3 separate regions of the Homo sapiens genome follow, and regions 1 and 3 are each linked to region 2. The links come from fine-mapping of genetic effects on gene expression. A gene starts in region 2. Each other region holds a variant in brackets. All regions are shown on one strand. Distances are from middle to middle. Region 1 overlaps XRCC2 (X-ray repair cross complementing 2). Region 2 holds the start of XRCC2 (X-ray repair cross complementing 2). Region 3 overlaps XRCC2 (X-ray repair cross complementing 2).

The links. PIP is the estimated chance that this variant, and not a neighbour inherited with it, causes the effect.
Region 1: its variant is the best candidate, but not a certain one, in a credible set for the expression of XRCC2 in visceral fat (GTEx, PIP 0.64).
Region 3: its variant is the best candidate, but not a certain one, in a credible set for the expression of XRCC2 in CD4 T cells (BLUEPRINT, PIP 0.79).

The regions. Positions count from the first base shown.
Region 1 is chr7:152,645,685-152,648,442 of GRCh38, forward strand. XRCC2 (X-ray repair cross complementing 2) reads right to left here. Exons shown (of 3, transcript NM_005431.2): 3 at 1-2,758. Among named protein-coding and RNA genes, the nearest start is that of XRCC2, 29 kb to the right of the region's middle. The variant G/T (reference allele first, on the strand shown) is at 1,765.
Region 2 is chr7:152,674,700-152,677,464 of GRCh38, forward strand. XRCC2 (X-ray repair cross complementing 2) reads right to left here and starts at 1,442. Exons shown (of 3, transcript NM_005431.2): 1 at 1,342-1,442. The coding sequence starts at 1,380. RefSeq lists silencers at 829-918, 1,219-1,688 and an enhancer at 919-1,763.
Region 3 is chr7:152,652,850-152,655,614 of GRCh38, forward strand. The region is part of intron 2 of XRCC2 (X-ray repair cross complementing 2); the gene reads right to left. Among named protein-coding and RNA genes, the nearest start is that of XRCC2, 22 kb to the right of the region's middle. The variant C/CAAA (reference allele first, on the strand shown) is at 1,348.

The DNA of each region.
Region 1 (2,758 bases), 29 kb before region 2:
TTAAAAGAGACACTTCTAATATTTCACTATTAACTAATGTTTACTGAGGGATTTTTGTATATACCTTTTATCAATTCAAGGGACTCAGCTAGGCAAGGTGGCACACACCTGTAATCACAGCTACTTTGGAGGCTGAGGTGGAGGCTCACTGGAACCCAGGAGTTCGAGGCTGCAGTGAGTTATGATGCCACTGCACTCCAGCCTGGGCAACGGAGCGAGACCTTGTCTCTAAAAATAAAACAGCAAATATGTATTTTAAAAACCAGCCTAAAACTGTCATTTTAACTGGAGTCCTCAGTCCCTTTGCATGTAATGTAATGATTGGTGTGGATGGAGTTAAATACACCATCTCCTCTGTGCTTTGGATCTGTCCTGCTGTATTCGGTTCTTTTAAATTTAAAAATCAGCCCACCATTTTCCTGTTTCATTTTAAAGTTATGCCCCTTTTCTATCCTTGAGTGGTTAAGAAATCAAAAGGTGCAGACCCTTTATCAATGTCTAATGTTGATACTTTTCCCCTTCTCCCGGACAATGCAAGGACCTTAGCACACTAATTCTTCTGCTCCTAATGTCAAATTATATGCTTTTCTTGCCACGTATTCTAAGTCTGTGAGAGGGTGTGTGTGTGTGTGTGTGTGTGTGTTGTTCCCTTCTTTGTATCCAGGAGTTCTCATCATTTAGCTCCCACTTATAAGTGAAAACATGCAGTATCTGGTTTTCTGTTCCTATGTTAGTTTGCTAAGGATAATAGCGTCCAGCTCCATCCATGTCCCTGGCAAAGGTATGATCTTGTTCCTTATATTTTATTTTTTATTTTTTAGAGATGGAGTCGCCCAGGCGGGAGTGCAATGGCGCGATCTCAGCTCACTGCAACCTCCACCTCCTGGGTTCCAGCAATTCTCCTGCCTCGGCCTCCTGAGTAGCTGGCACTACAGGCACGCACCACCATGCCCAGCTAATTTTTTGTATTTTAATAGAGATGGGGTTTCACCGTGTTGCCCAGGCTGGTCTTGACCTCCTGAGCGCGGGCAATCCACCCACCTCGGCCTCGCAAAGTGCTAGGATCACAGGCATGAGCCACCACGCCCAGTCAGTCTTGTTCCTTTTTATGGCTGTATAGTATTCCCTGGTGTGTATGTACCACATTTTTTTAATCCAGTCTGTCACTGATGGGCAGTGCTGCAACGAACATACGCGTGCATGTGTCTTTATAACAATGATTTCTATTCCTTTGGGTATATACCCAGTAATGAGATTGCTGGGTTGAATGGTATCTCTGTCTTTATCCCCACACTGTCTTCCACAATGGCTGAACTAATTTAATTTACATTTCCACCAACAGTGTATAAGCATATCTTTTTCTCCACAACCTCACCAGCATCTGTTATTTTCTGACATTTTTATAATAGCCATTTGGACTGGTGTGAGATGGTATCTCGTTGTTGTTTCGATTTGCATTTCTCTAATGATCAGTGATGCTGGGCTTTTTTCCATAGGATTGTTGGCCACAGATGTCTTCTTTTGAAAAGTGTCTGTTCATGTCCTTTGCCCACTTTTTAATGGGGTGGTTTTTTCTTCTAAATTTGTTTAAATTACGTATAGATGCTGGATTTCAGACCTTTCTCAGATGCATAGTTTGCAACAATTTTCTCCCATTCTGTAAGCTGTCTGTTTACTCTCTTGATAGTTTCTTTTGCTGTGCAGCTCTTTAGTTTAATTAGATCCCATTTGTGAATTTTTGCTTCTGTTGCAATTGTTTTTGGC[G/T]TCTTCGTCATGAAATCTTTGCCTGTGCCTATGTCCTGAATGGTACTGCCTGGGTTGTCTTCCAGGATTTTTACTGTTTTGGGTTTTACATTAAGTCTTTAATCCATCTTGAGTTAATTTTTGTATATGGCATAAGGAAGGCGTCCATTTTCAATCTTTTCCATATGGCTGGCCAGTTATCCCAGCACGATTTATTGAATAGAGAATCCATTGCCCATTGCTTGTTTTTGTCAGGTTCATCGAAGATCAAAAAAATTATAGGTGTGTGGTCTCATTTCTAAATTCTCTATTCTGTTCCATCAGTCTACGTGTGTTTTTGTGCCAGTACTATGCTGTTTTGGTTACTGTAGCCTTGTAGTATAGTTTGAAGCTGGGTAGCGTGATGCCTCCAGCTTTGTTCTTTTTGCTTAGGATTGCCTTACTATCAATATTTCTTTAGATTTACTCAAGTACTTACCATTTACTCATTATTACTTCTTACCTCTCAGATTTACTTTCTGAGATAATCTTTTAAAAGTTCCTTTGTGAAGAAATATTGGTGGTAAATTAATACAAAGTTTAATTGCTAAAATCACTTTGATTCAACAGCCTAGAAACAGAATAGTCTTTACTTTTACTGTGCTAGTTTAACAAATCCATTCTGTAAAGAAATACTGTTAATTCCCCTAGAGTTTAAAACTTTAGGGCTGGGCACGGGCCTGTAATCCTAGCACTTTGGGAGGCCGAGGTGGGTGGATCACTTGAGGTCAGGAGTTCGAGACCAGCCTGGCCAACATGGTGAAACCCCGTCTCTATTAAAAATACAAAAATTAGCCAGGCGTGGTGGTGGGTGCCTGTAATCCCAGCTACCTGGGAGGCTGAGGTGGAAGAATCACTTGAACCCAAGAGGCAGAGGCTGCAGCGGGCCGAGATTGTGCCACTGCACTCCAGCAGCCTGGGAGACAGAGTAAGACTGTTTCAAAAAGAAAAAAAAAAAAAAAGAAAACTTTTGGCC
Region 2 (2,765 bases):
TATATTTATATAATATATTTTTAAATATATATTATATATAAATATATTTTTAAATATATATTATATATAAATATATTTTTAAATATATATATATCTATGGTTTATAACTGTAGCCGTTCTTATACTAAGCAGTGGTTCTACTCTTTAGGAACAGGGATTATCAAACTATGGCCAGCAGGCTAAATCCAAAAAACAAAGCTTTATTGGAACGCTGCCATGTGCCTTTATTTATCTATGACTGCCTTCCCATTAGAACAGCAGAGTTGAGTGGCTGTGACAGAAACGGCATGGCCTGCAAAGCCTAAATATTTACCACATGGCCCTCCACAAAAATGTTTGCTGACTCTTTTGAGATTGCTTCCTCTCTCATCTGCATAAAAGATCCTTCATACCCTGCCCACTGCTCAGCGCTTACTTCCCAACCTATTGTCCCTCACTCCCTTTGTTCCAATTTTACAGAAATACTTGCAGTTATCTAAATTAGCCATGCTCTTGCTTAATTCAGAATCCATGTACTCCCGACTGTCTCCGCTCTGAATGTCATCCTCTCCTTGCCAAACCATTTCAAATGGTCCTTGAAACTTCAGTCATCTCCTCCTGCATCTTCCATGATGCCCGCCCCTCTAATGGACAACAAACTTTTGTGCAATACTGTAATTCTTACAGCAGCCTCCCTTACTAGTTCTTTAATGGCAGAAGTTATGTCTTTTGTTGCTTACTCCTATCCCTTAACACGTAGTTGACACACAGTAAGTGCTGGACACTTGGTTCAATTCTTGAGGGGCATCCACCGGCTTGTGTGGCTCTGGAGCTACCTGGGCTGGAAACGAATACTAGGGGGTGGCGAGGGCCAGCTGCCCTAAGCAGAGACACGTGGGCTACAGGGAGGTGAGGCAACCTCCGCAAACACCACCTGTTCCAGAAAAGCTCCAAATGCTCCAACGGGCGACCCCTCCCCTTTTCTAGCTTTTCTTGCATAGCTTGACATTTCCAACGGTAGTTAATTTGTGAGGGGTTTTTAGACCATAACTCTTGGGAGGAGAGACCTCGTATGTTATATCGATCTGGGCAGGCAGCAAGTCTTCCAAAGAAAGACTTCCTCCACCTCCGCCCGGTCCTCCCACCTCGGAGGACTCCAGGCTGCCCAGGGGCGGACCCCTGGGGCCCAGGTGAGAGGTGGCAGAGGGTGCCAGCATCGCGGGCGTCTAGGCCGAGAGGCCGGTCCCAGCCCGGCCAGGCCGCGCCGCCCCAAGCCTCCCAATCCCCCGGGTTCCCTCGGCTCCCCTCGCCCACCGGCGGCCTTGTTCCCATCTCCCTCACTCCCAACCCGGCGGCTCTCACCTCGGTCCCAGACTCAGCCCTATGGAAGGCACTACACATCGCCCCGAAGGCTCGGCGCAGGAGAGACTCAACTTTCCCGCCACCAACGCCATTCACCAACTGCGCAGACTCTACGGCCAGTCAAACCCGCCCACCCGCGCGCGTGCGCACTGCGCCAGGCCGCGGCCGGGGAGGCGGGAGCATGCGCAATAGGGTGTGCGGGCCTCCCCGCCCCGCCCCCAGTTCCTGTGACGTCAGACTTCCGCGTCCCCCGCGGCGCTCTCCCGCGTCCCCTTGGAGATCGCTCCGGGGTGGCGGGGACAGCTGGTGCTTTTCTTGTCTGTTGTAAACTTTGGTTCGTTATTATTATATTAGGTAAAGCTGGTCTTATGTATTAATTTGTTTAACCATTAAAAATAATTGTATTGCACAAGCAGGCCCCTTTGTCCGTTCTCGGGTTAAAAGCCTCTGGCTGTGTGTGCGATTCATGGTTAATTCTGGAAAAAAAGAGAAAAGTATACTGTATTTAAAAGAATTTTTAAAATATACCGAGCCTGTGGATTTATCAAGTTGCTTTTTGAGGTAGGCAGGAGGATCACTGGAAGTCGGGAGTTCGAGACCAGCCTGGCCAAAATGGTGAAACCCCGTCTACAGTAAAAATACAAAAATTAGCCAGGTGTGGTGGCGCATGCCTGTAATCCCAGCTACTCAGGGAGGCTGAGGCAGGAGAATCGCTTGAACCAGGGAGGCAGAGGTTGCAGTGAGCCGAGATCGCGCCATCACACCTGAGCGGCAGAGCGAGACTCTGTCTCAAAAAAAAAAAAAGACAAAAATTTGGATATAGTAGCATTGGCCATTATTATCAAGATGACAAAATGTTTTCTGGAATGAAAAAGTTTCATGCAAAGATATACTTTTCACCCACCTAGTTTAGTTTTCAAAAACGCTAGGAAAGAGCATATACCAATGAAGTATTTCTCATGGGTAATATTAAAGTTGCTCATTTTGTAAATTGGAATGGTTTTGGTTCCAAGTCACAGAAAACCCAACTCTTACGTCCTGAAACAAATGGGCTTTACCGGGTGACATCACTAGAAGTCCAAAGGTAAGACAGGCTTCAAGGTTAGTTTAATTGAGAGGCTTGATGAGGCAAACAAGTACCTCATTTCTTTTTACCTCAGATTCATGTTTTCTACCTTGGCCTCTTCTCTACGTAGGGCTGCGGGCCCGTATCTGAAACATTAACAACCATCAGGAATGAGGTTGGTCTGGTTAGCTTAGGCCTGAATCGTGTGCCCCACTTACTTTTCTTTTTTTCTTTTTTTTTTTTTTTTTGGAGACGGAGTCTCATTGCACTCTCGCCCAGGCTGGAGTGCAGTGGTACCATCTCGGCTCACTGCAACCTCTGCCTCCCGGGTTCAAGTGATTCTTCTGCCTCAGCCTCC
Region 3 (2,765 bases), 22 kb before region 2:
GACAGGTGGAGTGTGTGGCTTTGGTGGCAGAGTTCAGCAGGTAAGAAAGTCCTAGACCAGGGTTGACACAGGGACCAACATAGGAGGCAAAGCAAGAGGAGCAAACTGCCAGGTGTGGAGCCTGCTGCCCAGAGACCACAGGGTGCTCACACTTAGCGTGGTGAGGGCCTCAGTTCTGCAGGTGATATGGTTAGGCTGTGTCCCCACCCAAATCTCATTTGAAATCCCACGTATTGTGGGAGGGACCCAGTGGGGGTAATTGAATCATGGGGGCGGGTCTTTCCTGTGCTGTTCTCGTGATAGTGAGTAAGTCTCATGGGATCTGATGCTTATTATAAGGGAGAATTTTCCTGTACAAGCTCTCTTTGCTTGCTGCCATCCACGTAGGATGGGACTTGTTCCTCCTTGCCTTCTGCAATGATTGTGAGGCTTCCCCAGCCACATGGAACTGTAAGTCCAATTAAACCTCTTTCTTTTGTAAATTGCCCAGTCTTGGGTATGTCTTTATCAGCAGCGTAAAAATGGACTAATACAGCAGGTAAACCTAATGTGGTGACTTAAAAGTTCTCAAAGATAGGCTTGGAAGTACCTGCACAAATCAAATACAGACATAAAGTAGACTTTTTTTGAGACAGGGTCTCATTCTGTCGCCCAGGCAAGAGTGTAGTGGCGTGACCTCAGCTCACTGCAACCTCCGCCTCCCAGGCTCAAGCCATCCTCCCACCTCCGCCTCCTGAGTAGCTGGGACCACAGGTGTGTGCCACCACACCTGGGTAATTTTTGTATTTTTTTTGTAGAGATGGAGTCTTGCTGAGTTGCCCAGGGTGGTCTCAAACCCCTGGGTTCAAGTGATCCACCTACCTCAGCCTCCCAAAGTGCTAGACTTATAGGCATGCACCACCACACCCAACCCAAAGTAGAAATTTTTAGTTCACATAATTCACATTGAGTATTCCAGCAAAAATTTAGCTTTCAAAATGGTATGGGTTTTTTAAAATGTTATCTCTAGGTGTCACAAAATGAAAATGTCCTACAGCCACTAAAATTTAAGATTCAAGATGGTAAGCCGGGCGCGGTGGCTCACGCCTGTAATCCCAGTACTTTGGGAGGCTGAGGCAGGTGGATCACCTGAGGTCAGGAGTTCAAGACCAGCCTGGCCAACATGAAGAAACCCTGCTTCTACTAAAAATATAAAAATTAGCTGGGCATGGTGGCACGTGCCTGTAATCCCAGCTACTTGGGAGGCTGAGGCAGGAGAACTGCTTGAACCTGGGAGGCAGAGGGTTGCAGTGAGCCCAGATTGCGCCATTGCACTTCAGCCTGGGCAACAGGAGTGAAACTCCATCT[C/CAAA]AAAAAAAAAAAAAAAAAAAGATTCAAGATGGTAGGTAATAAGGGGCTGGTTATAGCAGACTGGGAGTAATCCACACAGAAATAATAGAGAAAAAACAAAAATCTCTTTGATGGGTGGGTATTATGGACCTAAAATTAAGGCCAAAACTAAATTTTTGAGATATATCCACAGTTAGAAGACGCATTAGAAGACAGCTAAAACAGAAATTTAATAGGAAAACCAGGAAGAAAAACATTACAGGGCAAAAGAGAATGTTTCAAGAAAATGAAACTACTAAATAATAAATATAGCAGAAAAGTCATGACAATGAAAAACAGCAGGGAAAAGATCACTGAGTTTGTCCAAAATAGTGACCTTGGAGCATTAATTGTGTAGTCCGCAAAAGCACATTTAACATCTCATTTTGTGAACCAAACTTTTAAAACTGAGATACTCAGAAGACAGGAGACAACGGCACTAGCCTAGGCATTCACTGCTTCTAGAGTAACAGCAAGGACAGAGTGGATTCCCGACGAGTGAAACTGAGGCAAAGAAGTTGAAGGTTAAATCCCTGCCTAAGAGATACTCTTTTTCTTTTACACATTAATAGCAAAGCAGGTATAAAAAAGGCTTTTATAACAACCGGGAAGACACTGCAAACTTGCAAGAGACACATGAATTATCATTAAGGTCCTTGAACTAAATTCCTCACAAATATGTTTAATGATGAACTGAAATCAGTTTTACTGATTTTATAAACATTTACTGTTTGATCCTCAAGATCAAAACCTGTAATCAAATATTATGTCCTACAGAAGGGACATCATCCTTTTCAATGTACTTGAAGTCACCGTCTCATATGTTTCTGTGGCTGCTACAGCATCCTTGTCCAGCCAAATTATGGAACGTGACAACTCGCAGTAAAAAAATCCCTAAGGTTTGGCACTTGAAGATATTAAACTAAATCAGAAAATCTGGATGATTTGGCCTTGACAGTTCCTCTTACAAATAGAACGCTGTAAGGAGTTTGGGTAACAGATTGTCAGAAAGAGTTCTGAATCTAAAGATCCTTCAAAATAAGGAAAAGAAAGGAAAAGCCAAAAAAGCTATCATCTTGGTACCAGCCTACCAATTATATAACAAATATGTTGAATTTGCAGATTATAATCATTATAGAAGTAAAGAAGTAATGAATTGGTACATGGTACTGAATAACTCCTATCCAAAAAAGCATTAAAAATATGTTTACAGGTTGGGCGTGGTGGTTCACGCCCATAATCCCAGCACTTTGGGAGGCTGAGGTGGGCAGATGGCTTGAGCCCAGGAGTTCAAGACCATCCTGGGCAACATGGCAAAACTCCATCTCTACAAAATACACAAAAATTAGTCTGGTGTGGTGGCACACATCTGTGGTCCCAGCTATTCAGGAGGCAGAGGT